Regions from separate parts of the Homo sapiens genome. Here region 2 is reported to be linked to region 1. The links are microRNA targets in miRTarBase. Many come from high-throughput screens and were not tested one by one. Region 1 holds a microRNA gene; the other region holds the end of a gene's coding sequence.

Evidence for each region. Region 1 holds the annotated microRNA hsa-miR-655-3p (AUAAUACAUGGUUAACCUCUUU, at 7,209-7,230, shown strand). A microRNA usually pairs through its seed, bases 2 to 8, with sites in the 3' UTR of a target mRNA and lowers its output. Matches are read on the target gene's strand: a 7mer-m8 pairs with bases 2 to 8, a 7mer-A1 pairs with bases 2 to 7 and ends in A, and an 8mer does both.
Region 2: miRTarBase lists ZNF695 as a target of hsa-miR-655-3p. The part of its 3' UTR that is shown has no 7-base or 8-base seed match.

Annotation. Positions count from the first base shown.
Region 1 is chr14:101,042,402-101,054,999 of GRCh38, forward strand. It overlaps MIR655 (microRNA 655), which reads left to right and starts at 7,149; the gene lies at 7,149-7,245. It overlaps MIR381HG (MIR381 host gene), which reads left to right and starts at 2,756. Exons shown (of 3, transcript NR_104192.1): 1 at 2,756-2,783; 2 at 8,666-8,868; 3 at 9,201-9,394. It overlaps MIR889 (microRNA 889), which reads left to right and starts at 5,500; the gene lies at 5,500-5,578. MIR544A (microRNA 544a) reads left to right here and starts at 6,257; the gene lies at 6,257-6,347. It also overlaps MIR487A, MIR382, MIR1185-1, MIR1185-2, MIR381 and MIR487B, and 2 more genes. RefSeq lists enhancers at 3,364-3,864, 3,865-4,365.
Region 2 is chr1:246,975,315-246,991,722 of GRCh38, forward strand. ZNF695 (zinc finger protein 695) reads right to left here. Exons shown (of 4, transcript NM_020394.5): 4 at 10,009-12,941. The coding sequence ends at 11,653. ZNF670-ZNF695 (ZNF670-ZNF695 readthrough (NMD candidate)) reads right to left here. Exons shown (of 7, transcript NR_037894.2): 4 at 12,807-12,941; 5 at 4,526-4,690. Among named protein-coding and RNA genes, the nearest start is that of ZNF695, 25 kb to the right of the region's middle. RefSeq lists an enhancer at 3,533-3,827.

The DNA.
Region 1 (12,598 bases):
ATGTGTTTATTCAGAGAGAGTTGGCCCATGAGAATCTCATTTTCCTTTGACGAATCTTGCCCTAGATGAATACTTCTGAGTAACAACTAACTGCTCAGATGGCTTTCTGAATACAATGCCAAATTCAGGAGAAGGGACACTTGTCATAGTGCTGCTTTGTGATTTGCAAACGGAGTGCGTTGGATTTCTGTTTCTCTTTTTTCTTTAATGATGCATGTGACTGCATCTTCTAACCTCCCTTAGCCAGTGTTCACCAGGAGGGCTTCCTGGAGGCAGTGGCTTTGGGCAGAGGCAGAGGTTCTTCTCCCAGGGTGTTTTTGCAGGCCCTAAAGGGATTTCAGCCATTTTACATTTACATTATTTCAAATGGTACAGGATTGCCTGTCTTTTGGTAACCAATCCTGTCGTGAAGAGATGCTGGGAAGTAAAGTCAACTGTATGGCAGGCCCCAGCTCCAGGGCCAGCCAGATGAGGCTTGTCACCTGGCCCCTCCCCCTTGGTCTCAGGCCTCGCAGGAGGAGATGTCCACTCCGGCGAAGACCCGGCATAGTCCTCACCTGCTCTTTGAGCCACTCTTTGGTACTTGAAGAGAGGATACCCTTTGTATGTTCACTTGATTAATGGCGAATATACAGGGGGAGACTCTTATTTGCGTATCAAACTCTGTCGAGGAAGACGCTCAGACCCTGCTGTCTCCAGGACAAAGCCTCGGATGTCAGCCCCTCTCAGGTACGGCTTGGCTTCCCTGTCTGGGAACGTGAGCTTGGCTGTGATCCTAGCCCTTGGGTTCTGCCTTCGCTCTCTGTGCTGGTTCTTCCTGTGGACTCCCTGGAGGCAGTGGGAGAGGAGGGTCCTTTTTGTGTGCACTGAGTTTAATGGTGGTTTGCTTTTTTTAAGGATAAATCACATGGATCTGCCTCTTCTCCATACCAAGTCATACCCAGAGGGCTTCCTGCGTCCAGCACTAACCTCGCACCTCTCCGGACACACGAATGGGTGGTGGATGGTGGAGCGCAGAGCTGATGCTGCTTCTCACCTGCTACTCCCCTGACCTGCCACTCCCTGGTGGTCTCCATCCTTGAGAGAGTGTCAGCCTTGAGGGAAGCACATGGATGTCAGGTTGTTCTAAGGCAAGTTACTGGTGGAGCTCCCTGAGCCTGCCTGTGCCCTCTGGGACTGTCGCTGGACTCCAATGGCCAGTCCTCGGAGCACATTGTCCAGTGATTGCACCTGAGTGTGCCTTGGGCAGGTGTGTCTGGTCTTCAGGACTCCTTTGTCGCTAGAGTCTGACGCTGGGGCCCTCTTTTTGTTTGTTTCGAGGTAGGTACAGGTGACACATTCTTGGATCTGGTCATCTCTAGGACAACCAGCCTCAGAGGAGAGACATTGTCTCAGCGCTCTCCAGCTCTGAGAATGCCTGCAGATGCCTTCTTCTCTGATAACTCCATGTCTTGCCGGGCTGAGCCCTCACACCCTGTGCCCCTTTGGAGAAAGGTGATGGTTCCATTGTCCATGTAGCTTGTGGGTATTTGAAGCAGGTTCACCCATGCATGCTGAGCACACTGATAGTCATGCCTACCTGTTCCCTTGTTTAGAAGCCAGTCTCGCCTGCAGGGAGTCCTGGATGTGCCACCTTTCGGGGCCAGGCCACAATGTGCAAGGTGCAGGCCCAGCTCCAGGGTCAGCCAGATGAGGCTTGTCACCGGGCCCCTCCCCCTTGGTCTCAGGCCTCGCAGGAGGAGATGTCCACTCCGGCAAAGACCCGGCATGGTCCTCACCTGCTCTTTGAGCCACCCTTTGGTACTTAAAGAGAGGATACCCTTTGTATGTTCACTTGATTAATGGCGAATATACAGGGGGAGACTCTCATTTGCGTATCAAACTGTCGGAGAAGACACTCATACCCTGCTTGTCTCCAGGACAAAGCCTCGGATGTCAGCCCCTCTCAGGTATGGCCTGGCTTCCATGTCCGGGAACGTGAGGTTGGCTGTGACGCTGCCCCTGGGTTCTGCCTTCGCCCTCTATGCTGGTTCTTCCTGTGGACTCCCTGGAAGCAGTGGGAGAGGAGGGACCTTTTTGTGTGCTCCAAGTTTAATGGTGGTTTGCTTTTTTAAGGATAAATCACACATTGATCTGCCTCTTCTTGGTACCAAGTCATACACAGAAGGCTTCCTGTTCCCAGCATCAGCCTTAGAAGGGGGACCTGGATGTTGGATCATTTCAAGGGGAACACAGACAGCAGTGATGGTGGACCACGGAGCACTGGCTCTGTCTATGCTGTTTTCGAGCCTGGTAGGCCAGCCCCAGGAGGGCTTCCTGGAGGTGGTATTGACCTTGGGGAAGGGGCTGAGGTGTGCTCATCAGCGCTTTTTTTTTTTGATGCTTGGGTGTTCATGATCCAGCTCGCAGTCCCCAGGCTGAATCTGTAAGAATGGTTTGCTTCTATTTGTCATTTGTGATTGCCCATGAAGGCAGCGCTGGGGATGAGCCGTGGGAGCTGTCAGCCCCGCACCAGGTGCGTGCATGTGGGAGGTCAGAGGGCGCCTGCTTCTGCCTCGATGTCTGTGCCCCGTCTCTGACTGCTGGCTTTCTGCTCACACCTAGGATGGCTGCCTGAGAATGGGACTCTTGTTCTGTGTTTGTGGAGACACTCCTTGGGCCGTGTGACTGCCGGCTTTTTACACCCCGACTGCCATGGGGGTCATCTGGACCCGAAGCCAGCTTCAGGAAGGACATTCGCAGCATCCTCAGCCCAAGGAAAGCGAACGTCCAGCTGAAGAGAGGTGAGCACCACGCCTGGGTAATGAGTCACATAACCTGCCACCTGGACCAGGCGGCTCCCGCTCCTCTCCCCTTCTTGAAGGAGAGACCACTGTGGGGAATGGGCTGTGGGTCTGCTTCCTCAGTTACTTGGGGGTACGTGGGGTTTACTACTGTTGACCCTGTGCTCTTTCTTAGCATGGCTTCATGGCCACGATGCCAGCCTCTGGCAGGGGTGGGGCAAGGGCTGGCATGGAGAATGACACTGGTGTCAACGGCTCTGTGAGATGGATGAAGGGATGGTGACCACAGGGCCTTTGCTTTGTCTAAGGTGTAAATTCATCCAGTGCCTGGGACCTCGGTGCTGAGTGCATCCTTAGGAAAACTTCCTGGAGAGGTGCCCACACTGGGAAGGAGATGGTGGTCCCACCCCAGGGAATTCCTATAGAAAGTGAGAAGCTGAGCTCTGCGTGTGCCCAGGAAGGCCCGTGGGGTGGATCTCCTTTTCAGGAACAAGTTCTAATCTGGAGTGATGCCTGGAAAAGAGGCTGATTCTGGTGAAGGGGCACTGGCGTCTGCCCCTTCCTGGCCCCTTTGGGATGGAGAGCTGACCTATGGGCACACAGCTGGCAGGTGGTGTTTGCCACCTGGTCTGCTGATCCCGCATCTCCCACCCCCTCCCCCGCCAGGATGAACCCCGGGAGAGGAGGCCGGCCCCGTGAATGATAGTGAGGAACCTGCCCAGTGCTATTGTTTGGTACTTAAAGCGAGGTTGCCCTTTGTATATTCGGTTTATTGACATGGAATATACAAGGGCAAGCTCTCTGTGAGTATCAAACCTTGTCTTGGACCCAGTCCACACTCAGCAAGGGATGCGGTATGTGTGTGCATGACCGTGTGTATCCGTTTTGTGTGTGGCAAATCGTTCACGGGTCCCCACTTCACAGAGAGGACTTCACGGGCACCTGGATGACTTTAGGGAAGGCAGTGGCCTCTGGGACATCCCCTCTCCTGGTGCAGTGTGGGCGGGGCCAAAAGCATGCACGATGTGTGTGGTCTGGGTCCCTGCTTCCTGAGCGGGAAGTCATCAGCCCGGGCCGATGGCTGGGGTGGCGCTCGTGTGGGGTAGTGGCTTTGTGGTCCCTGCTGTTACTCGGTCCGTGAGTGTGCATGTTCTGCTTGGGGTATGTGACCCGGTCCACTAACCCTCAGCATCTAATTCATCCCCAGGACCGCGCCTTGAAGACGTACCAAGTCCACCCAAGGCAGTGGCTTTCTTTTCCGTGCTAACCTTTGGTACTTGGAGAGTGGTTATCCCTGTCCTGTTCGTTTTGCTCATGTCGAATCGTACAGGGTCATCCACTTTTTCAGTATCAAGAGCGCAGACTCTGGAGCTCGATTTCCTGTGTTTGGATCCCACCTCTGACATTTACTAACCGTCCAACCTTGGGCAAGGATCTCATCGTGCTGTGCCCATTGTCTCACATGTCAAAGGGGAATCACATTGGCGTCCATTTCTTGGGGCTGCTGGGGCTGAACGAGTTAAGACTTGTACACGGCTCAGAGCAGAGCCCCGTGGTCGGCACTTCGTAGGTGGTAGCCAGGACCCTTGTGTGCTGTGAAACTATCATTGGTGGTGGTGGTGGTGGTGGTGGTGGTGGTTTTATGACTAAAATCTCTCCATGGGTTTTTGGAACAGTGTCAAAACATGGAAGTCAAGTCCTTCATCGGGTATGGAATGGACTAGGAAGCCCAGAGCATACACGGTGTTTACAATGGGGGCTAGTGATGCTCTTGATGCTTGGCAGCTAAGCCATTCACACAGTGGCTTTTGATACAGAATGCCACATGCAGTGGGGGTCAGCAGGGGTGCCGAGAACATTTGCTCCACTTAAGAGAGACAGTCCCTGGGTTCTTGACCTCGGCCACTATCTACGCTTTGAAGGAGTCTTGAGCGAGGATGCCAAGCTGAGTGAGGATTCTATGGCATCTTGCTTCCCTGGTGCTTAAAGAGAGGTCAAACTTGGTGCATGCATTGTGCATGCCTGTGTGTGCGTGGTGTGTGTGCATGAGCGAGTGTGTGACTGGGTTTGCCACGAAGCAGTCACCATCTAACCTTGAGCCAAAGACCTGGAGGTGGTGGTCCGTGCTGCTGTTTCATACTTGAGGAGAAATTATCCTTGGTGTGTTCGCTTTATTTATGATGAATCATACAAGGACAATTTCTTTTTGAGTATCAAATCTTGCCTCGGCAGACTTCCTGGACGCCATGACAAGTTCTGTAAAGGGATGCACGCATCAGCCCTTCCCAGGGGCTCACGCCTGGGTGGGGATGAGGGCGCATGCAGTTGGTTTGTGGTGGGGACACTTGTGCCCTAACCTCAGAACCCTGGAGGCGGGGCCACGCTTGGCAGGGGGCCACGGGACTCCTTGGTGCTATCAGGGATTTGCATTGGCCATGGGTGTGTGTTGTGGGTGACGCAGCATTCAAGCTACTTATCAAATCCTGCTTCTTGGAGGCACTTCTTGGACATGAAGCAAACCTTAGGGACCGATCATTGGGGCCAGACCCCCTTCCCCTGCCCAAGAGTGTGACTGACCCCCAGGCATGGGCTTGACTCTCAATGTGTGAAGCTGACCTGCTAATCCTCATTGTTTGGACTACCTGAGAAGAACTTTCTGGAAGAGACACCAACTTTGGAGAAGATGCCCAGCTCTTCTTGATGGCACAGTTCTTTGGTGCTTAAAGAATGGCTGTCCGTAGTATGGTCTCTATATTTATGATGATTAATATCGGACAACCATTGTTTTAGTATCCAAATTTGCTTCAGAAGTTTTTGAAAGCACAGTGCTGACTTCAGTGAGGGGACATTGGTGCCTGCCCCACCATGGAGTGTGACTGTGTTGATGATTTATAATGATGAATCCAGTGATCTCAGAATGCAAGCCACCAGTGTGATTTCCTTGGACAAATGCTAGCTTTGGGGTGGAGATGCCATTTAGGGGCTTGGTGCCATATCTTTTTATTGGAAGATGTTCACAATTATTTCATCTCTCTTTCTCTTCTTGTTATTAAATCTTAGCCACGAGGAATTCCTTGGAGAGATGCCGGGGTCAAGCCTCTCTCTAGGTAGATGGTGGACCGGGGAACCTGGGTCCAGCCTCTCCTATCTGTAGCCTTCATTCTGAGTATGAAACACTTCCTGTAGGGAATGCAAACATTAGTAAAAACTCCGTACATTTCCTGTTACTATTACTACTTTTTGGCAGCTCCTAAGCAGCTGCCTGTTGGGTATTTGGATTATTCTTGGTGGACGTGGCATGGCTTCGTGCCTTCCTTGGGAACCACCCCATCTTAGACAGACTCTCATGGAATAAGACGTTGTGGTCGACAGCACCTCTGGGGTGTGTGTGTGTGTGTGTGTGTGTTTGTGTGCGTGTGCATATGAATAGTTGGCTAGAGTAGTGTTTCTCAAACTTTAAAAATGCTCCTAAGATTTTCATCACCTAGGGATCTTGTTAAAAAGCAGATTCTGATTCAGGGACCAAGATTCTGCATTTTTAGCAAGTTCTCAAGTGATGCTAATACCGCCGGTCTGTGGACAACACTCACAGTGGTTTGGGGCTGGAGACCAGGTGCTTTCCCTGTGATATGTGTCGCCTGTCTCCCCACATGCCATATACCGTCCATCGTGGGAGAACGGCCCAGAATCAACGTGCCATGTTTTGGTTTGTGAACAAGGGTTCACTTTCACATGCGTAAATAGCATGAGATTACTTTTCTTTAAAATCAAATCATGCCTCAAAGGGCTTCCCAGATACAAGACCTGCTTCAGGGAGGGGCCGCCGGTGTCAAGCTGCTGCAAGATTGTCGGGTGCAGGTCAACGGCACGCTTATTCATTATTGATGTGCTGGGCCCTGGAATTCTGTGACCCTCCGTTTCCAAGCAGTCATCGGGAGGAAATTCCAGGAACTGAGACCATCTCTGCGGTAGGGACCCTGTCTTCAGGGATCAGTGACACCCCATTTTATCGGAAACAGAATTCTTCATGATGGCTTTGCTTATCTCTGACATGCATTCTGCTGGTTCTCGTCATCAAATCCCGTCTTTCAGGAATCCGTGGAGGAAGCTTTCATATATTTTTAATGGAACCTGCCTTAGAAGTCTTTCTGAGCATGGTTCCAATGTCAGGGTTTTGACTTTGGTGCCAGGGCTGCCTGGGCCCTGAGACTGAGGTACGGGAATGGAAGGTCAATGCCAGTACGTGTGCTTTCTTTGCAGGATGTGAACACCTCCCTGCCCCAACCCTGGGATTCAGCTCATCCCAAGAAGAATCTTCTGGAAGCAAAGACAACGGTGGGGAAGAGGCCATGGTTTTCGTTTCAGAACTATGCAAGGATATTTGAGGAGAGGTTATCCGTGTTATGTTCGCTTCATTCATCATGAATAATACATGGTTAACCTCTTTTTGAATATCAGACTCTGCCTCGGAGGGCCGCCCCCACAGGAGACGTGAGAGTGTGTGCCTTGTGTGAGCTGAGAGCCCCTGCCCCGGCTCCGTGCTGCGTGAGGGAAGCTTCCTGGAAGTGAGGCTGGTGGAGGGAAGAGCCCTGGGTTGCTTTGCTGTGTTTGCTGTGAATGCGATGTGTTTTTGCGAGTTATGTGAGGTTCCCTCCTCTTTGAATGCCAACTTGTGCCTTCCCCCAGTGGCTGGGTCTGTGGCTTAGCCACAGGGCTAGGTCCCTTCCTGGACCCAGTGCTTTTCAGGGTGGGTCCCTGGGGGCAAGGACAAGGTTTACCACTCCACTGGGACACTTGAGGAGAGGTTAACTCCTCCATGCGGACTCCTTTGAGGACAGCCTGTTTTCCTCTCAGGGTGGCTCCCTGGATGAAGTCCAGCACCTCTGTGGGTGTGTGAAGGGCAGGCCGACTTGGGCTGTGTTCCCACTCCTCACCCAGGTCACTGGCCCAGTGCCACTTCCTCCTCAGGTCAGCTTCCCTCTGCCAGCCGACCTGGTGGGGTCTCCTGGTCCATTGCTTGGTGCTCATAGACACTGGCACGGTGCCAGGTTCCCTTCACTCCTTCCCGATGGAGACCATGCAGCTAATGAATCTTCGGCTCTGTGATGCTGCCTTGGAGGGCTTCCTGCACACAGCACCTGGTTTGAGAGGAGAACACGGACTCCAGCGTGTCCCCTGGTTATGGAGAAGGGAGGCTGTCCTTGATCCCCCGTTTGGTGGATGATATAGTTTGGCTGTGTCTCCACTCAAATCTCATTTTGAATTCCTTTGTGTTGTGGGAGGGTCCTGGTGGGAGGTAATTGAATCAGGGGAGTGGGTCTTTCCCTTGCTGTTCTTGTGATAGTGAATGGGTCTCATGAGAGCTGATGGTTTTATAAGGCAGAGTTTCCCTGCACAAGGTCTCTGTTTGCCTGCTGCCATCCACGTAAGACCTGACTTGCTTCTCCTTGCTTTCCACCATGACTGTGAGGCTTACCCAGCCACGTGGAACTGTAAGTCCAATTGAACCTCTTTCTTTTGCAAATTGCCCAGTCTTGGGTATGTCTTTATCAGCAGCCAGAAAATGGACTAACACAGTGGAGGGCAGTGGCACCAAGCCCCGCCCCCTTCAGGATGTGGTCCCTGTGTGGGGCAGCATCCTGGAGTGGCTGCAAAGCCCCACTGCTCTCTGCCTCCGTGGCTTTGTCCTATCTGAGGTGGCCAGTGCGCTGGGGTCCCTGTGTGGAGTCAGTTCTTTATGGGTGCCTGCAGGTGCCGGCTTCACAGTAAGAAAACTGTCAGCTTCGCCTGAGGTATGGGCACAGAGGTGACGCAGGGATATGAACTTTGTTGACGAATGTGTTCTCTGCACAGCTAACCCAGAGAATTCATTCCACCCTCAGGAGAAGCCCTAGAAGTGATACAGGCTCTGGCCGGGGGACCCGATGTGCTCGTGTCGCGGCGTGGGGCTTGGTGAGGAACCACCGGAGTGCTCTTGCATTTTTCATGACAAAGACCACACAGTTGGCCTCATTCCTGCACAGTGGGAGAATGTGTGGAGGTGTCCCGCCACCAGAGAGGAGGTCTATGTCAGCACCATCACCAGGTACCTGGGGGAGGGTCTGCTGACGATGCCCAATGTTCAATGGCCCAAGCAACCCGTCCTTGGGGGACTTCTGGGCAAGACCATTTCGGTGCTCAGCCCCACTCCGTGTCCCAGGCAGAGAGGGGGCTGAATTGATGATACCTATTAAATGGGTCATTAATTCTCATTATCCATGCAGCCTGCCCATGAGGGTCCCCCAGAAGGGAGGGCAACTCCGGGGAAAGGTTCTGGCCATCAGCACGAGGCCACGATCCAGGAGGTGCTGCAGAGCCAGAGGCCACAGGACAGATTATCAAGCCAGGTCACAGGCTTTCTCTGTCCTTGACCCTCAGCATCCAGGCTACCTACAAGAGGAGGCAGGGGGACTCCTCTGACACACCTGGGGAGGTCTCGTCAATGGCAGGTTCCCTCTACAATGCTTTCTCTGCTGCAAATGCAACTCAGCATCACCTCTTTCCTGGATATAATTCCAAGGAATTATTAAAGGAGGCATTGGTGTCAGCACCTCGTGAAATACTCGTAAGGATGACCCATGGCAGAGCCTGTGTCTTCATTGGAGTAAGACTCACATGCTGTGGCCTCCAGGCTCTGGAGGCCTCGGGGGCAGAGCAGGGTTGAGGCTGACCGTGGGGCCTCGCCTGGGTTTGTGGCTTATCATATTGGACCACTGTTTTTCAGGACAAACTCCCCGGAGATGTCCCCTGGCAGGACCCTGACCTGGAGGCAGGGTGCTGTCCATGATAGGGGAATGGATGGTTGATCAGAGAACGTACATTTTATAAATGGTGTATGTCAGTTGATCCACAGTCCCTACCTATCCAGTGACTTCTGGAGGCCACATCAGCTCAGAAGACAAGGTGGTGGTTTCCTAGGCCATGCTATTTTCTGGCACTTGAAAGGACCTTCTCCTTGCCGGGTTTGCTTTCTTTATGCCCAGTCTCATGAGGGAGTGCCTTTTTTGAGTATGGATCTTGCTGGGGAAGCTTTCTGGAAGGAGCTGTTGCCCTTCGTCCCTCTCCAGGGGCAAGAATGCATGGTTGGCTGGAAAGCAAGGGCTTGATTGACATTGTGCACCCCTCAACTCTCCTAACCCTCTGTCCCCAATTCATCCTCAGGCGGACTAGCTGGAAGGAAGGCAGACTCTGGTGAAGACGTGGGCCGTCACCGTCAGCCTTCGGTACTTGAAGAGTGGTTATCCCTGCTGTGTTCGCTTAATTTATGACGAATCATACAGGGACATCCAGTTTTTCAGTATCAAATACTGCTTTGGAAGGCTTCCCGGACAGCGTCCCGCCTTCAGGCAAGGGGTCTTGGCTTCACCTCCCACCCAAGGTATGTATGTGAACGGGCCATCGCAGTGCACTAGCTTCTTCATGTGCCACAGCCATGACCAGAATCGAATCTCTGAGGAAGATGGTTACTTCTAAGGCTGTGATTTTCTGGAAGGGGCTTTGGTGTCTGCACTACATTATTGGGGGAAGTTGACCAGTGAGAGGCCCATTCACACAAGACGTCTGTCACCTGCTCCAAGTGACCCTCACCCTTGGTAAGATGAATCTCTGGAGACATGCTGGCTCGGTAGTGTTACTGTCATCAGCCGGACTGACTGATAGGTAATTGGTCATCATTATTGCTTTTGTTCCAGGGCAGAATTTTTGAGTGCCAAATCTTGCCAGGGAAGGGTTTCTGGAAGCAGCACCGCCCTCTGGGGAGACTTGGCATCCACATCTGTTGGAGTTTGTGGAGAGTTAGTTGAGCAGTCTGAGCTTTGTTTCTGAGGCGTCTCCCTGAGCTCACTCTCCTGCCAGAGCTGTGTCCTGCCCATGGCCATAATGGCTATTGAGAGGGTTGGTGACTTTGGCCACCATGATTTTGTTTCGATAAAGTTCTCTCTTTTTAAAAAAATCAGATTCTTTTGTTTATAGCATAACTACATGGTTCATGAGTTGATCAAATAACAAGGAATGACTTGGTCATTCCATAAATAGTGATGGAGTGCACACTGTGTTCTAGGTGATTCTGGACCTTAGCAGAGAGCAGTGAATGAAATCAAGTTCTTGCTCATGTGGACTTTACATTCTGGTGGAAGAGACGGATGAGAACACATGAATTAGGAAGCGTAATTTTGTCCACTGCTAGGTTTTATGGGGAAAGGGAAAGCGGGTTACAGTGACAGAAAGAGGTAAAAGCAGGTGGACCTTTGTGTTAAATACAGGGGTCTGGAAAGCTCTCTCTGAGGATGTGGGTGGGAATGGAGTGGGGTGGACCAGAGGAAGGTCTGGGGTAGGAGCATTTCAGGAGGAGGGCAAGGCCCATGGAAAGCCCCCTGGCATCTTTAAGAAAAAGCAAGAAGGCCAGTGGGATTGAACCGAGCTGCTGGGAGTCGCTGGGTCTGAGCTGGGAGAGGCAGGACTCCAGGTTTTATTCTGAGTGAGATGGGGGATTTGGAAGGGTTGTGAGCAGGGGGGATGCGTGGTCTGTGTTGGAAAGATCACTCTGACCACAAGGGCATTGATAGAGAATCTACCCAGGGCAGTGATGGGGAACCTACCAGGAGCCTGGCGTGCCTGAGCTGGGCAGTTTCTCTAGGGGCACCTGCAGTGGCAAAAGGGGGCCCCCTCTGGACCTCCCTAGTTCAGTGGGCCCTGCGGGAGCCTGGCTGGCACCTTGATGTGCTTGATGGATAACTCAGTGTGCTCTGTTGAGAAGTCCAAGGCCCTGTTCAGAAACCCTGGGGTCTACACACTGCGGAGTGCTCCTGGCGTGTGACAAGTGGCTTCCCTCTTCTTATTTCTAAACCTTGTGCGTGTGGATTCAGGACCACAATTTCAACTCCAGGGAAGGGGGACTGTGCCAGCACCACTCCAAGGGAGGTGAGTGAAGGGTTGCCCAAACTCCAGTGTGTTCCTAGGACACCCGTAAGCTGCCTCACTAATGCTCGGTGTCCACTCTGTCCACAGGATGGTGGTTGGCAGCCACTCCCCTTGGAGAAGTGGAAGGGGACTCCTTGTCTGTCTTGTCTCTGCTTTTCTGTGGTACTTGAAGAGAAGTTGTTCGTGGTGGATTCGCTTTACTTATGACGAATCATTCACGGACAACACTTTTTTCAGTACCAAATGCTACCTCTAAGGACTTCCTGGACACAATGGCAGCTTCAGGAAAGATAGTCTTTGTGTCAACCATGTGGAAAAGCCAAGAATGGATGGCGGGCCATGGACAATGCGCTGACCTAGCTGTAAGTCACCTGGCCCGATAATCCGAGCCTCCCATGCACCTATAGGAGGTCTTCCCATGGGTCTCACCAACTCTGGGGAATCAGCTGTGGTTCTGTCACCAGCGTCACCTCACAAGACTTTGAAGAGAGGCTCCCTGGGCCCCAGGCCGACTTCCAGAAGAGATGTTGGTGTCAGCACCGTCCAGGGTGTGTGACTGGTTGACCAGAGGGGCATGCACTGTGTTCACCCTGTGGGCCACCTAGTCACCAACCCTCAGCATCACTCCCACTCCAGGAAGACTTTCCAGAGCTCCCACCAACTCTGGGGAAGCGGCCATGGACTTGCTGTGACTGCTTGGTGGACTGCGATGACACGTGCTCTTGGGGGTGTATGTTTACTTAAAATGCAATGAGTCAGCCTTGGCAGCCCCTTCACCACTGTGACAGCCTCCTTGAAGTGTTGACTTCCGATGTGGGACGCCATGTTGTCTTCTGTTGAGGGACCTGATGTGGGCC
Region 2 (16,408 bases), not on the chromosome of region 1:
ATATCCACCAATATTTATTGTGAATTTATTGGATAGTGTATTTTCCATATATTTATGTGTCATGACCTACATTTAACTCCAAAGGAAATATGCAATCTATATAAATCCATTTTTCTGCCTTCTAGAAGCTTAGTCTACGGAGGAAACATATGAACGCAGACCATTAAAATACAATGTGATGAAGATTTTAACAATTACAATGCACTGAAGTTTTGGACTGAGGGCTGTGGGAGCAATAATACAGTGCTTCGAACTTAAGTAAAATGAAACAAGAACAGTTTTACTAACATGCTGAGAACATGAAAGTTCAGAGTTTGGCATGCAAATGCTGAGGGCTGAGGAGTAATCATGAGGCAGAGGAGCTAGGAAGCATATACAACCCTCCCAAGATTTTCATTGACAGTAAGGAGTAAGCTAAGGTGTAAACTGAGCAGGAGACAGTATCAAGAAAATGATTTAAATTATGTCTCTGAGGGAATTAAGCCAAGTGAAAGAAAAATCGAAGACAACTAAAACAAAAGGGAATCTTTAAAGAGGCTAAGTCTCAAAAGAGGTAAAAGAGAAGAGAACAACTTATTCTATTAGGCGAAGAGAACAACTTATTCTATTAGGCGAAGAGAATAACTTATTCTATTAGGCAGGAGGGAAGGAGGAAACGACCATCTCTGAAGGGAAATCTCAAGGTTAAGAGAGAGAGGCTTCCCAAGCATAAGATGAACAGTTTCTGTTTTCCCATGAAGAATGAGATAGACCATCTGCTGATACTGGCTGGTGAGGGAGACGCTGAGGGAGAGGCAGGGACAAGAACTTTATTGGTTTATAATTGGTGTGCAATGTTGCTGCCCTAAGCTGCATCCTCACACATAAAAAACTTGTCCTTATGTCTCTCTTGAAATCTATGCAGAAACTAGATGTGGCACACTGTCCACATGGGGGACAGAACACAAGGTTACAGAAGCACCACAACAAGAATGAAATAGTCATTTCTACATTTGCAAAACAATTTTTTAATTAGCTAATTATTTAGCTCAATGATTGCTATATCCCTGTAGGTATATGTGCTCAAGGATCAGTTATTATTTCTTTAAATCCTTTTGAGGCATTCAAAGACATAAGACATTCTATTTCAGTGGGAATGTTGTAGTAGGCAACATTTGCTGTAAATAAACAACACATGACAAAAGGAGTAAATTACACTGGCCGGGCGCGGTGGCTCACACCTGTAATCCCAGCACTTTGGGAGGCCAAGGCGGGCAGATCACGAGGTGAGGAGATCGAGACCATCCTGGCTAACACGGTGAAACCCCGTCTCTACTAAAAATACAAAAAATTAGCCAGGCATGGTGGCGGGCACCTGTAGTCCCAGCTACTCGGGAGGCTGAGGCAGAAGAATGGCATGAACCCGGGAGGCAGAGCTTGCAGTGTGCTGAGATCGCGCCACTGCACTCCAGCCTGGGCGACAGAGCGAAACTCCGTCTCAAATAAATAAATAAATAAATAAATAACACTGAATTTATCCTGAAGAGAAAATGCAAAGCCAAATAAGAGACCCCCAAATCAGACTGAAAATTTATTTGCCTCTATAAAGTTCAGAAAACCAGAATGAGAAGCAGCTACTTTTTAAACTTTAGACATTATAAATTTACAATTCAACATGAGATTTGGGCAGGGACACATATCCAAACTACAACAATACTTACAAAGTCAACCTCAGATCAGTTACGCACATATTTTCTATCATTCCCAGTTCCCTGCCATTCGCAAAGTTTATGAGCATTTTTTATGTTCCCTCAAGCCCCAGATATAAATGTAAGAGCGTTGTGCCAGCTAACAAAAACTTTCATATGTGCCAAAATAAATCTACTCATCAGTGCCCACTGGTATTTTAATGGCTCAATAGAAATGTTTTGTACAAGGTTGTGAAGGCCTTTATGAAAGGATACATTTTTTGTTGTTGTTTTTGAGACAGAGTCGGTCTGTCGCCCAGGCTGGAGTGCAGTGGTGTGATCTTGGCTCACTGCAACCTCTGCCTCCTGGGTTCAAGCGATTCTCCTGCTTCAGCCTCCTGAGTAGCTGAGACTACGGGTGCCCGCCACCATACCTGGCTAATTTTTGTTGTTTTTAGTAGAGGCGGGGTTTTGCCATGTTGGCCAGGTTTCGAAAGCCTGACTTCGTGATCCACCCGCCTCAGCCTCCAAAAGTGCTGGAATTACAGGCATGAGCCACCACACCCGGCAAAAGGATAAAGTTTTTAAAAGTCTTTTAGGATAGCTTTGTTATCAGGTGTATAAGCTTAATAACACTCTCTTCCAGCATCTCTATTTGTCAGAGTTTTTATGACATTGGTGATTTCATTTTGATTCTAAAAACTTTCATACATCTCATTCTGTAGCAATTAGTTTGCGTTCAGCTACAAAGAAAAGACTTTTGTATAGTATCAGAACATATGAGGTGTACTCTTACGTACTTGGGCAGCAGAACTAATAGTGCAGTGACCTTATAGTGTGCCAGTTTCTTTCCATTTCCTGTCTCTGAAATGGTCTACACCTGGTCATTGTGCTCAAGCTCACTCCTTCAGAACCCAAGTCGGCTGATCCACCTCCAGGCAATTGAATCACATTCCAAACAGCAACAAGGAGAAAAATGTGAAGCTAATAGGACAGGGAATGTTATTAAAAACCAGTGTTTTTTAATTCAGAGAAGGCCAACCTGTTCAGGCACTTCTCTCTAAATCTCATGGAGCAGAACACTATCACTCGGCCACCAATGTAAGCAGAAACATTTCTCTGTAGCAGAACACAGGAGACATGATTGGGAGTGGCTGCTGCTACCTGTACTATCATGAGTTCTGACAAAAAGGCTATTTACATTGTGCACTGGAACAGGGTGTTATGAAAAAACCCTCAAATTCAGAATACATTCATCCCAGAGTCACAATAATTATGTAAGCAAATGGAATGCTTATTCTTTAGAGGTATAATTAAACAGCTGTCTAATCATTTGATTACTTATGACTTTGTAATGAAAATTATCAAACACAACAGTGAGAATGTAATATTCAATCCCATAATCAAACATAACCTGTTAATCTTTTGTAAGGTTTTACATTTTGATAAAATGTTCAATAAATTGTGGTGCTTTAATTTGCATGATGATGATGCAACACATAAAAGCAAGTGATTTACTTGAAAGGTGATCCCAGGAACAGAAGGAAGCAGTGAAGGAAGATGGGAAAGAGCAAGAAACCAATAAAGGCTGTGGAGTCGGTCAGACCTATTTTTGTTCATACATTTTTGGAGTTTTGAGTCCAGCTCTAAAGTTACCACATGTGTATGGCGTATTCCTAGTATGACTATGTTAACTCAGGATAAACTACGGCTCAGGTACTGCAGAGGCTGCTGCACGTAGAATGGACCAGAACCACCTGGAGGGCTGTAGGATAACGGGTTGCTGGGCCTCTCCTTCATGTTACTCACTCAGCAGTCTGGTCTGCTTTGTTGCAAATTTTCAGGTGTTTCCAAAGCTGCTTGTCGGGGAAATGACTTGAAGAACTTCTCTGGCTGCCCAGTATGATGATGTTCTCCAGTGAAGACAGTGGCCCGCGTGAGATGCAGTAAGATACAGTGATCGTGAATGCTTTTAAGTGGACTCTAGTCTTGTTTATCCAAGTGTGAGAAATGAGGTCATGTGTGTTGGACTTCTGTGGTTTCACCTTGGAAGCCTGACTACTGTTCAAAGTCTACAACAGTCAGGTACATATCCATTCCGGGTATACACGTGTAACCTAGGCTAGGATCTAAAGTCTTTACATGGCCTGGGCTGGAATCTGTCTCAGATCCTAGAGAGCTGCTCTGGGTGAACACACCTGGAGGAAACACTGAGATCCACAAGGGGAGATAACTCAAAAATAGAGTCCTTTGGTGGGTTGTTTTTGGAACTGTTCCTGTTGCTTTGGGGATGACATGGGGGAAGATGTGGAGAAGACGGTGGTGGTGACAACGGAGGTTTGAGGGGTACGGGACCACACCCAGACTTAGAATACAGCCCTCGTTTCTCCTGATTCCGTTTGTCATAGCCAGGAGAGCATCCTGGGTAATTTACCTAGTTAGAAGAATCTCACCCAGGGGACTGGGCTTTTGATTTTGCCATTTCAAGGAAAGACGTGCATCATACCACGGGCACTACAGATCCTTGAGACCTCCTTCAGCTCTCCTCTTCTTTCACAGCCTTGAAAATTATCTTTTAATTGATAGCCTCAGAAATGTTATTGAAATCTTTACTACCCATTCGCTAGGTGAAATTATCTAAATGAATTTCGCATTCCAAATCTAACCATATTTCTTAAATTATGAATATGGTTGAGAAATTTATTTTTAGGCAATCTTTTTGTTTCACATAATTTGCTCATAATTGTTAGTTTAGAGTATTCTTTAAAATGAATTATCCCCATTACTAAATAATTTGACTGTTTAATCTTTCTAAAAAAATTAAAATACGTCATTCTAAATAACTCGTTAAGTTTTACCTTATATTTATAGAAGCCTTCCCAATTACTCATATAAAAATCTTATGCTGGCCGGGTGCAGTGGCTCACGTCTGTAATCCCAGCACTTTGGGAGGCCGAGACAGGCGGATCACGAGGTCAGGAGATTGAGACCATCCTGGCTAACACGGTGAAACCCCGTCTCTACTAAAAAAAAAAAAAATACAAAAAATTAGCCAGGCGTGGTGGCGGGCGCCTGTAGTCCCAGCTACTCAGGAGGCTGAGGCAGGAGAATGGCGTGAACCTGGGACGCGGAGCTTGCAGTGTGCCAAGATCGCGCCACTGCACTCCAGCCTGGACGACAGCCTGGACTCTGTATTTAAAAAAAAAAAAAAAAAAAAAAAAAACTTATGCTGTGTTTGAATACATAATTTGTCAATCAGTTACATATTTTTAAACAGCCTTGAAAGACTGATTTTATTCTTATAAAATGATACATTTAGTCACTTTCTAGTTATAGACCTGTACTATTTGGCTGTTATATTATACCTAAAGCTGTTAATTTCCCTTTTTAAAGCAGTAATGAAATATGCAAACTATAAGATTTGCCCCCCTGCCACTTTTTTTTTTTTTTTTTGAGACAGACTCTTACTCTGTCGCTCAGACTGGAGTGCAGTGGCGCGATCTCAGTACACTGCAATTTCCACCTCCCAGGTTCTGGTGATTCTCATGCTTCATCCTCCCAAGCAGCCGAGATTACAGGCGTGCACCACCACACACTGCTGATTTTTGTATTTTTTGGTAGAGACAGGGTTTCACCATGTTGGCCAGGCTGGTTTTGAACTCCTGACCACAACTGATCCACCCGCCTCAGCCTCCCAATGTGCTGGGATTACAGGAGTGAGCCACCGCACCCGGCCGAGTTTACCCATTTTTGAGTGTACATTTTAGAGGCATTAAGTGCATTCACATGATGGGATACTCATCACAACTATCCTGAAACCTGAAACTATTATGAGAAAACATAAGGCAAAAGTACCATGACATTAGTCTGGGCAATAATTTTTTAGATTTAATGTAAAAATCCCAGGCAACACAAGCAAAAATGAATGAAACTTCTTTCAACTAAAAAGCTTCTGTACAGCACCAGCTACAATCAATGATATGATGAGACAACCACAGAATGAAAAAATATTCAAATTATATGTCGGATGGGTTAATATTGAAAATACATAAGAACTTAAACTATATGACAGAAAGATATTAAAAATGGGGAAAATATCTAAATATGTTTTTCAAAAGACCTACAAATGACCAACACATATATTTTTAAATGTTCATCAATAATCATCAAGGAAAGGCAAATCAGAACTGCTATGAGGTATCACCTCACTCTTGTTAGAACGACTATAATCAAAAAGACAGAGGATAAGTGTTGGCGAAAGTGTGGGGAAAGAAAAATGCTAGCACACTGTTGGTATGAATGTGAACCAATACAGCCACTGCCAAAAACAGTATGATGATTTCCGCAAAAAAATTCAAAATAGAACTACCATATGACACAGCAATTTTACTATTGGATATATATCCACAAAAATAAAATCAGTAGGTTGAGGAGACATCTTTATTTCCTAAATATTGAAAGAAATATTTCCCAAATTTTGAAATATATAATATTTGGGAATATTTGGGAAATAAATGTTTCTGTCTTTCTCATAAACTCAGTGGAAAAGACTCAAAAATAAAGTTTTCGTGATGTTTTTGTTCTATTAGTCCGTCATCAGTACAGGAACTCAGGTATTTACCAGTGTGCTCAGGGCCTAGCACAGAACATGGGAAGGACTGAAATATTTTAGAACTTTTACTTTAAGCTTGGGGGTACCTGGAGCTGCTGTTCCTGATGGTGATGGTATAGAAAACAGTAAAGAAGCAGACAGTGCTAATGGTCCCAATTTGGCTATTGTAGAAACACAGAAAACAATTTAGCACCCCAAAATCACTGAGGAAATTGTTTTAATCCAAAAGCTACCATGATCTCTGAGATGTCTTTAGAGTGAATGGCCAAGCGGTTGGCTAGCTAGGTGATTAAGAATGAAGACTATGGACTGCCAACTGCACCCAATGAAACATAGGAAGAGATTTAAAAAGTTCCCAAGATTGCAAAAATAAATCTAAATGAAAGATTATTTCAGGCCGGGGGCAGTGGCTAAAGCTTGTAATCTCAGCACTTTGAGAGGACGAGGTGGGCGGATCACGTGAGGTTGGGAGTTTGGGACCAGCCTGACCAACATGGAGAAACCCGGACTCTACTAAAAATACAAAATTAGCCAGGCGTGGTGGTGCATGACTGTACTCCCAGCTACTTGGGAGGCTGAGGCAGAAAAATCACTTGAACCTGGGAGGCGGAGGTTGCGGTGAGCCGAGATCGCGCCATTGCACTCCAGCCTGGGCAAAAAGAGTGAAACTTAGTCTCAAAAAAAAAAAAAAAAAAGATTATTTCAAATTTTAAATCCACAGAAGTCATTCTATTATTGTTCAACACAACACACACATTCAAAAATAGGTTCTGCATGGAAACATAAGGTGTGCTGTAAGTGTTTCATAGAAAATTAAATTCAAAATTATCCACTTATCATTAACTCTCCTTAAGAATTTCTAAGATACATTTGCTCTTCAGAGATTTCCAAATTCTGACATGTTTATTTACACACTGCTTACAATACATAGTCCAATATTATTAAAGCTTTACCTATTCTAATTAATTATACATTCACCACACTTTGTGTCAGGATTTTAAAATATTTTCTTTTAACAAACAAACAATGCTAACTGCCCGATTTAATTCTCTGGCCCATGGACAGTGCATCCCTCTCCTCCATTAAGAGTGTTGCTTGGCCAGGCGCGGTGGCTCGTGCCTGTAATCCCAGCACTTTGGGAGGCCGAGGCGGGCAGATTACGAAGTCAGGAGATCTCTATCTATTTATATCCTTTTAAACATCTCTCAAATAAGTTTGAAAATTTTCTCCGTACAACTCTTACATATTTTATGTCAGCTATAGACTTAAGTATTCCATATATTTGATGCAATTATCAATGGTGTCTTTTATTTTAAAAACAATTTTCTGGCCGGGCACGGTGGCTCACGCCTGTAATCCCAGCACTTTGGGAGGCCGAGGCAGGTGGATCATGAGGTCAGGAGATTGAGACCATCCTGGGGAACACGGTGAAACCCTGTCTCTACTGAAAATACAAAAAAATTAGCCGGGTGTGGTGGCGGGCGCCTGCAGTCTCAGCTACTTGGGAGGCTGAGGCAGAAGAATGGCATGAACCTGGGAGGCAGAGCTTGCAGTGAGCCGTGATCGCGCCACTACACTCCAGCCTGGGTGACAGAGCGAGACTCTGTCTCAAAAAAAAAAAAAAAGAATGTGTTGCTTGTAGCTGGGCCACATGGTGGCACATGCCTGTAATGCCAGCACTTTGGGAGGCTGAGGTAGGGGGGTTGCTTGAGCGCAGGAGCTTGAGATCAGCCTGGAAAACACAGTGAGACTTCATTTCTACAAAACAATAAAAAAAATTAGCTGGGCATGGTGGCATGTGGCTGTACTCCTAGCTACCCAGGGAGCTAAGATGAGAGGATAACCTGAGCCTGGGAGGTTGAGACTGCAGTAAGCTATGATCACAATGTCAGTTTTGTAAAATATAAATGACCTCAAACTCTCCAGTTAAAAGTCAATCTATTGGCTGGGCGCAGTGGCTCATGCCTGTAATCCCAGCACTTTGAGAGGCTGAGGTGGGTGGATCACCTCAGGTGAGGAGTTCAAGACCAGCCTGGCCAACATGATGAACCCCATCTTTACTAAAAATACAAAAATTAGCCAGGCATGGTGGTGCGTGCCTGTAATCGCAGCTACTTGGCAGACCAAGGCAAGAGACTTGATTGAACCCAGGAGGTGGAAGTTGCAGTGAGCCAAGATTGCACCACTGCACTCCAGCCTGGGTGACAGGGTGAGACTCAGTCTCAAAACAAACAAACAAACAAACAAAAATCTATCATCACATTAAAAAATTTCAAATTTCCAGGCCAGGTGTGGCTCATACCTATAATCCCAGCACTTTAGGAGGCCAAGGCAGGTCAGTCACTAGAGCTTAGGAGTTCAAGACAAGCCTGGGAACATGGTAAAACCTCATCTCTACTAAAAAAAGAATTAGCTAGGAGTGGGGGTGCACACTTCTAGTCCCAGCTACTCAGGGGGCTGAGGTGGGATGATTGCTTGAGTCTGGGAGGCAGAGGTTGCAGTAATCCGAGATTACACCAGTGCACACCAGCCTGGGTGACACAGTGAGACCATGTCTCCAAAAAAAAAAAAAAAAAAGAAGAAGAAAAAGAGAAAGTCCAAATTTCCTGTTAGAATGTACAAAGTACTATATAAGATGACATATTGTGTGGAGAACAGTGAGAAAGTGTAGCCATAACACAGGTTTTAAAAAAAAAAAAAAAAAAAAGGAGGAGAGCTGGAATGCATAAGTAGTTGAGAAGAAAGAAAAAGAGACCACAAAAAAACAGAGATAATTTGGAAATAAAAGCAGAATTCCTCTTCAGAGAGAGTCAGTTGTGCAGCCTGGGTAGAGAAGTCCTTTCTCTGCATGCAGAATCAATGCCAGGTCTTCATCCTGGATATTTCCAATCTCTTACCTGGAGCCACAACTTCACTCCAAAAAGAATATTTATTGTTAATTATGGAACATCTACTACACATCTGGCACTGCGTTATGTTTCTTCACTTCATTTATATGCCAAATAGCCCTATGACTTATAAAGCCTCCAAAGTGTTTATCTGAACAAATTGCCCAATAGAGTCAATAAACTCAATTACTCAATTAAGTGAAAGAAACAATAACAAAAAAAGTTGGCTCGAATAGTGTTCTCTAATAATGGAAAAATGGAAATGTACTAATTAAGTACAATGAAAATTAATACACTCACTGTGGAATTATTCACATCTTCAGATTATTTTTTAAGCACCAATAAGTTTCATAAAATCATTATTATAATCCCTGAGAAGATCACATAAGAAATTCTTCATGAATTTTGGAACAAGAAAATTATACGTTAGCTCTAGCATGAGCAACATAAAAGTAAAAACAGGAATTTCATGTGGAAATTCTGCAAAATAAGATTTTAGAGAAATGCCTTCAATACAAAGCAGAGAAAACAGATTTGCCTTCGACATTTTTGAGGTTTCTAGTTTGCTAATAAATTATCCATACTTTTGAAATTATGTTTGGTTCCAACATTTTTCTCTTATTCTGAAAACAGGTATGCACTTACTTCAAACACATTACTTGCTTCATAACTGTCTTACACCTAACATTTATCCTTAGAGTAGTATATTTATGTATTTATCTCCATGTAAACCAAAACTAAAAGCATGTATATGTTTTGCAGGCCAGAAAAGCCACATGTTAAAAGGAAAATGTAAATAAAATTTTGTGAATAGTCCTTCAAGATTCAGAAATACACGGTCTTTGATTATAATCCTATATAGGCTTTATTATAGCCTTAATAATGACACTGTCATTACAAAAAGAGCAAACAGAATGAAGGTGTAACGTGTGGGAACAATATTTTTCAAATTATTTGAAGTTTAATGCCACTGGGAGAAGGGATCATTAGAGATACTATTCCACCATGTTACCCACTATTGTATTGTTACCATTTGTTACCTACAACCGTAACTAAGGTGAGATAGGTTAACGTTGGTGGTAGGATACGCATCACTTAATGTACAACGGTCCAAAGACATTAAAACAATGTCTTATTAAAACAAATTAAGTTCAAACAGTCTAAAAAGAGCATTTCAAAATCCACTGAATTTTATTACCTTAATGTGCAATAGGAAAAACAACTGACTTGTAAAACTCAAATGTTTCTTTCTTAAATATAATGCAGAATAGTACTCTGAAGACCTATCTCATGAATCACTTACAACCCTATTATAAGACAAGTACAAAGAGCCTCTCCAGTTAAATTTCTTCAGGAAGCTTACAATGCAATGTCCATAATCTTCCAAAGAAAAGGATATGAACAACACCCACCCGAATATAGAAGAAACTCTCACAGCTTTCATGTAGCAACAGTAGGCCTCATGCCTTCACATAAACACTAGAAATGAAGGCATGGTATCAAGTGATTTAAGACTTGAATTACATAAATATGTGATTTTCAAAAAAGCTAAAACTCTTTCAGTGCACCGAGTATACTTTATTATTATGTTGTTATTATTATTATTGAGAAAGGGTCTTGCTCTGTTGCCCAGGCAGGAGTGAAGTTGCCAGATAGCAGCTCACTGCATCCTCAACCTCCAGGCTCAAGCAATCCTCCCACCTGAGCCTTCCAAGTAGCTGGGACAACAGGCATGTGCCACCAAGCCTGGCTTTTATTTTACTTTTTGTAGAGATGAGGTTTTGCCATGTTGCCCAGCCTGGTCCCAAACTCCTGGGCTCAAGCAATCCCCCGACCTCGGCATCCAAAAGTGCAGCAACTATAGGAAAGAGCCACCGTGCCTGGCACCAAAAGGTATACTTGAAATGTAATTATAACTTCCCCAAAAGGTGAATCTCCTACTTACTTTAACTTAACTTTGAATTATTCTCTATAACCAACACTCAGATTTACAGTAATGTCTGAAAGTGTCAGTGACTTAGTGCTTTTTACTATGAATTCTTGGATGTGTTTTGATGTAATTTTTGATTAGACATTTTTTCACATTTACTGCATCTGTAAAACAGTTTTTAGTGTGAACACTCTGGTGTTTTCTGAGGTATATTTTTTGAACAAATGTTGTTTCTGCATTTATTACATTTGTAGGGTTTCTCTCCAATACAAAGTCTTTGAAATTGAATACAGTTTGAGCAACTGGAGGGTTTCCCTCCAGTATAAATTCTTCTGTGTACAGTAAGAGCTGTGATATAAGTGGAGGTGTTGAACCGGTCTATTTGTATTGTTCGTAGCCTAAACATTTTAGTGCACTCAAAGGCTCATAGACTGTAAATGGCCTTTTGACAGTCATTACATTTGTAACACTCTTATTCAGTAAAAATATTCTGCTGTGAAGTTGTGAATAGGTATTAAAGACTATGCCATATTGTTTAGAATTGTAGGGTTTTTCTCAGGTATGAGTTTTCTCATGTACAGCAAGTTGTGCAGAGTGGTTAAAGGCTTTGCCACATTCCTCACACTTGTATGGTTTCTCTCTGGTATGAATTGTCTTATGTTTAGAAAGGTGTGAGCTCTGGCCAAAGGCTTTGCCACATTCTTCACATTTGTAGGGTTTCTCTCCAGTATGAATTCTCTTATGATTAGTAAGATATGAAAACCAGTTAAAAGCTTTGCCACATTCATCACATTTGTAGGGTTTCTCTCCAGTATGAATTCTCTTATGTTGAGTAAGGTATGAAAACCAGGTAAAAGCTTTGCCACATTCCTCACATTTGTAGGGTTTCTGCCCAGTATGAATTCTCTTATGCTGAATAAGGTATGAGAACCAGGTAAAAGCTTTGCCACATTCCTCACATTTGTATGGTTTCTCACCAGTATGAATTCTCCTATGTTCAGTCAGATGTGAGCTCTGGTTAAAGGCTTTTCCACATTCTTCACATCGGAAGGTTTTCTCTCCAGTATGAATTCTTCTATGTTGAGTAAGGTATGACAACAATTTAAAGACTTTGCCACATTCTTCACACTTGTAGGGTTTCTCTCTACTATGAATTCTCTTGTGTTGAGTAAGGTATGGGAACAACTTAAAGGATTTGCCACATTCTTCACATTTGTATGGTTTCTCTCCAGTATGAATTTTCTTATGTTTAGTAAGAACTGAGCACAGGTTAAAAGCTTTGCCACATTCTTCACATCTGTAGGTTTTCTTTTCAGTATGATTTTTCTCAACAACAGCAAGACTTGAGCAAGACTTAAAAATGTTATTACATTCTTCACATTTGCAATGTTTCTCTCCAACATGAATTCTCTTACAGTCAGTAAAGCATGAGCACTCATTAAAGGCTTTGCCACATTTTTTACATTGGTACGGGTTCTCTCCAATATGGATTCTCTGCTGTTGAGTCATTATTAAAGACATGCAAGAGACATTGCCACATTCTTTGCATTTGAATGGTTTTTCTCCAGTATGGCTTATCTTACATTTATTTAGATTTGCAAATTTACTAAAACCTTTCACACATTTATTGCATTGAAAGTTTTTGCTATGAGTAGTTGCTGAGCATAGGTCAAGTCCATTATAACTTGCCTTCTGCCCTTTCCACTCACCCACAATTTCCCAGTCATTCCTTAAGCGTAATTTCTCAAGACAACATCTTTCATATCTTCTCAGCATCACTTTTTGGAATGAAACTTGCAGGCCCTGCTCTGGCAAAATGTCTTCAGTAAGATAAGAAGACAAAACTGGAAAAAATAAAAACAACAAATTATTCCACTTACTAGATAGCATCCTTTACAAATCTAAGGCATAAAATTATACAAGCATATTAGCAAGATAGCATAATGAAATACCACAGGCCCTTATTCCTTCATAGTCATAATCCTAACAAAAATATACTAAGCAAAATGCCATTATGAGAATCCTAAAAGCAGCCAAAGGGGGAAAAAAAGAAATGACGTACAATGAAGCTCCAGTACGCCTCACTGCAGACTTTTCACCGGAAAACTTACAGGCCAGGAGAGAGTGGTATGACATACTTAAAGTGCTGAAAGAAAAAAAACCTTTACCCTAGAATATTATATCCAGCAAAAATATCCTTCAAACATAAAGAGAAATAAGGATGGCCAAACAAAAGCTGAGGTATTTCATCAATACCAGACCTGTCCTACGAGAAATGATAAAAGGAGTACTTCAATCAGAAAAGAACATTAATTAGGCAGATCACCTGAGGTCGGGAATTCAAGTTCAGCCTGACCAACATAGAGAAATCCCGTCTCTACTAAAAATATGACATTAGGCCGGGCGCGGTGGCTCACGCCTGTAATCCCAGCACTTTGGGAGGCCGAGACGGGCGGATCACGAGGTCAGGAGATCGAGACCGTCCTGGCCAACACAGTGAAACCCCATCTCTACTAAAAAATACAAAAAAAAATTAGCCGGGCGTGGTGGCAGGCGCCTGTAGTCCCACCTACTCAGGAGGCTGAGGCAGAAGAATAGCGTGAACCCGGGAGGCGGAGCTTGTAGTGAGCCAAGATCGCGCCACTGCACTCCAGCCTGGGCAACAGAGCGAGACTCCGTCTCAGAAAAAAAAAAAAAAACGACATTAATTGGGCGTGGTGGCGCATGCCTGTAATCCTAGCTACTCGGGAGGCTGAGGCAGGAGAATCGCTTGAACCCGGGAGGTGGAGGTTGTGGTGAGCCAAGATTGTGGCATTGCATTCCAGCCTGGGCAACAAGAGTGAAACTTTGTCAAACAAACAAAAATTAAATGATGAACAAATCAAAAATGATAACTACAACAAGTTTTCAAAACATAGTACAATAAGAAACAGCAAAAAGTTAAAAATCAGGAGTACTAAGCTAAGGCGTAGAGTTTTTATTAGTTTTCTTTTCACTTGCTTTTTTATGCAAAGAGTGTTAGGTTCTTATCACGTTAAAATACATCAAACCAAAAAACATACAATGGATACACAAAAAATGAAAATCAGGAAACTAAATCATATCACCAGAGAAAATCACCTTCACTAAAGGAACATAGACAGGAAAGAAAGAAGACCACTAAACAACCAGTAAACAAGTAACAAAATGGCAGGATTAAGCCTTACTTACCAATAACAACATTGAATGTAAATGGAGTAAATTATCCATTCAAAAGAAATAGACTGGCTGAATGGATGAAAACACAAGACCCACTGACCTGTTGCCTTTAAGAAACACACTTGAGGCCAGGTGCAGTGGCTCACACCTGTAATCCCAGCTCTTTGGGAGGCCGAGGCGAGCAGATCGTTTGGGCTTAGGAGTTCAAGACCAGCCTAGGCAACATGGTGAAACCCATCTCTACCAAAAATACAAAATTAGCTGGGCTGTGGTCCCAGCTACCTGAGAGGCTGAGGTGGGAGGATTGCTGGAGCCTGGGAGGCAGAGGTTGCAGTGAGCCAAGATTGCACCACTGCACTTCAGCCTGGGTGACACAGTGAGACCCCATCTTGAAAGGGAGAAAGGGAGAAAGGGGAAAGGGAAAGGAAAGGAAAGGAAGAGAGAGATGAACGAGGGGAAAGGGAAGGGAAGGGAGAAAGAGAGAGAAGAAGGAATGAATGAAGGAAGGAAGGAAGGAAGGAAAAGGAGAAGGGGAAGGAGGGAGGAAGAGAGGAAAAGGAAGGAAAGAAAGGAAAGGAAGGAAAAGAGAAAGAGAGAGAGAAAGAAAGACACTTTACCTATAAAAACGCACATAGTCTGAAAATAAAAGAATGGAAAAGGAAATTCCATGAAAAACAAACAAACAAACAAAAAAGAGCAGGAGTCACTATACTGGTGTCAGTCAAAACAGATTTCAAGACCAAAAGTATAAGAAGAGAAAAAGAAGGTCATTAAATAATGATAGAAGAGTAAAATCAGCAAGAGAATATAACAATTGTAAATATATATTTATCCAACACCAGAGTACCCAGATATATAAGGCAAATATTATTAGAACTTTAAAGAGAGGCCCCAGTACAGTAACCGCTATATACTTCAGGACCTCATTTGCAGCACTGGACAAATCTACTAGACAGAAAATCAATAAAGAAACATCGCACTTATCTGCACTATATGCCAAATGGATCTAATAGATAGTTGCAGAACGTTTCATGCAACAGCTGCAGAATACACATTGTTTTCCTCAGCACATGGATCATTCTCAAGGATAGACCAAATGTTAGGTCACAAAACAAGTCTTAAAGCATCCAAAAAATGGAAATAATACCAAGCATTTTCTGTGACCTCAATGGAATAAAACTAGAATGAAAAGAGGAATTTTCAAAACTATACAAATACATGGAAATTAAACAATACGCTCCCAAATGACCAGTGAATTAAAAGAAATTCAGGAGGAAATTTAAAATTTCTTGAGACAAATGATAACAGAAACAAAATATACCAAAACCTATGGGATACAGCAAAAGCAGTACAAACAGGGAAGTTTATAGTTACAAGTGCCTACATCAAAAAAGAGGGAAAACTTCAACTAAACAATCCAACAATGCATCTTACAGAACTAGAAAAGCAAGCGCAAACAAAACCCAAAATTAGTAGAAGAAAAATAATGAAGATCAGAGCAGAAATAAATGAAATTAAAATTTTAAAACAATTCAAAAGATCAATGAAACAAAAAATTAGTTTTTTGAAAAACAAAATTGAGAAAAACCTCTAAGACATTAGTCTAAGCAAAAATTTCTGGAGCAATACCGCACAAACACAGACAACCAAAAAAAAATGGACAAATGGGAACATATCAAGTTAAAAAGCTTCTGCACAGCAAAGAATGCAATCAAAGTGAAGAGACAACCCAGAGAATGGGAGAAAATACCTGAAAACTACTCATTTGACAAGAGATTAACAACCACAAGTTATAAGGAGCTCAAACAACTCTATAGGAAAAAAATCTAATAATCCGAGCCAGAAAAAGCTCAGGAGATGTGAATAAACATTTCTCAAAACAAGACACAAATAGCAAACAGGCATATGAAAAGGTTGTCAACATCACTGATCATCAGGGAAATGCAAATCAAAACTACAATGAGATATCATCTCACCCCAGTTAAAATCACTTATATCCAAAAGCCAGGCAATAACAAATGCTGGTGAGGATGGAAAGAAAAAGAAACCCCGTACACTGTGGGGATGTAAATTAGTACCACCACTATGAAGAACAGTTTGGAGGTTTCTCAAA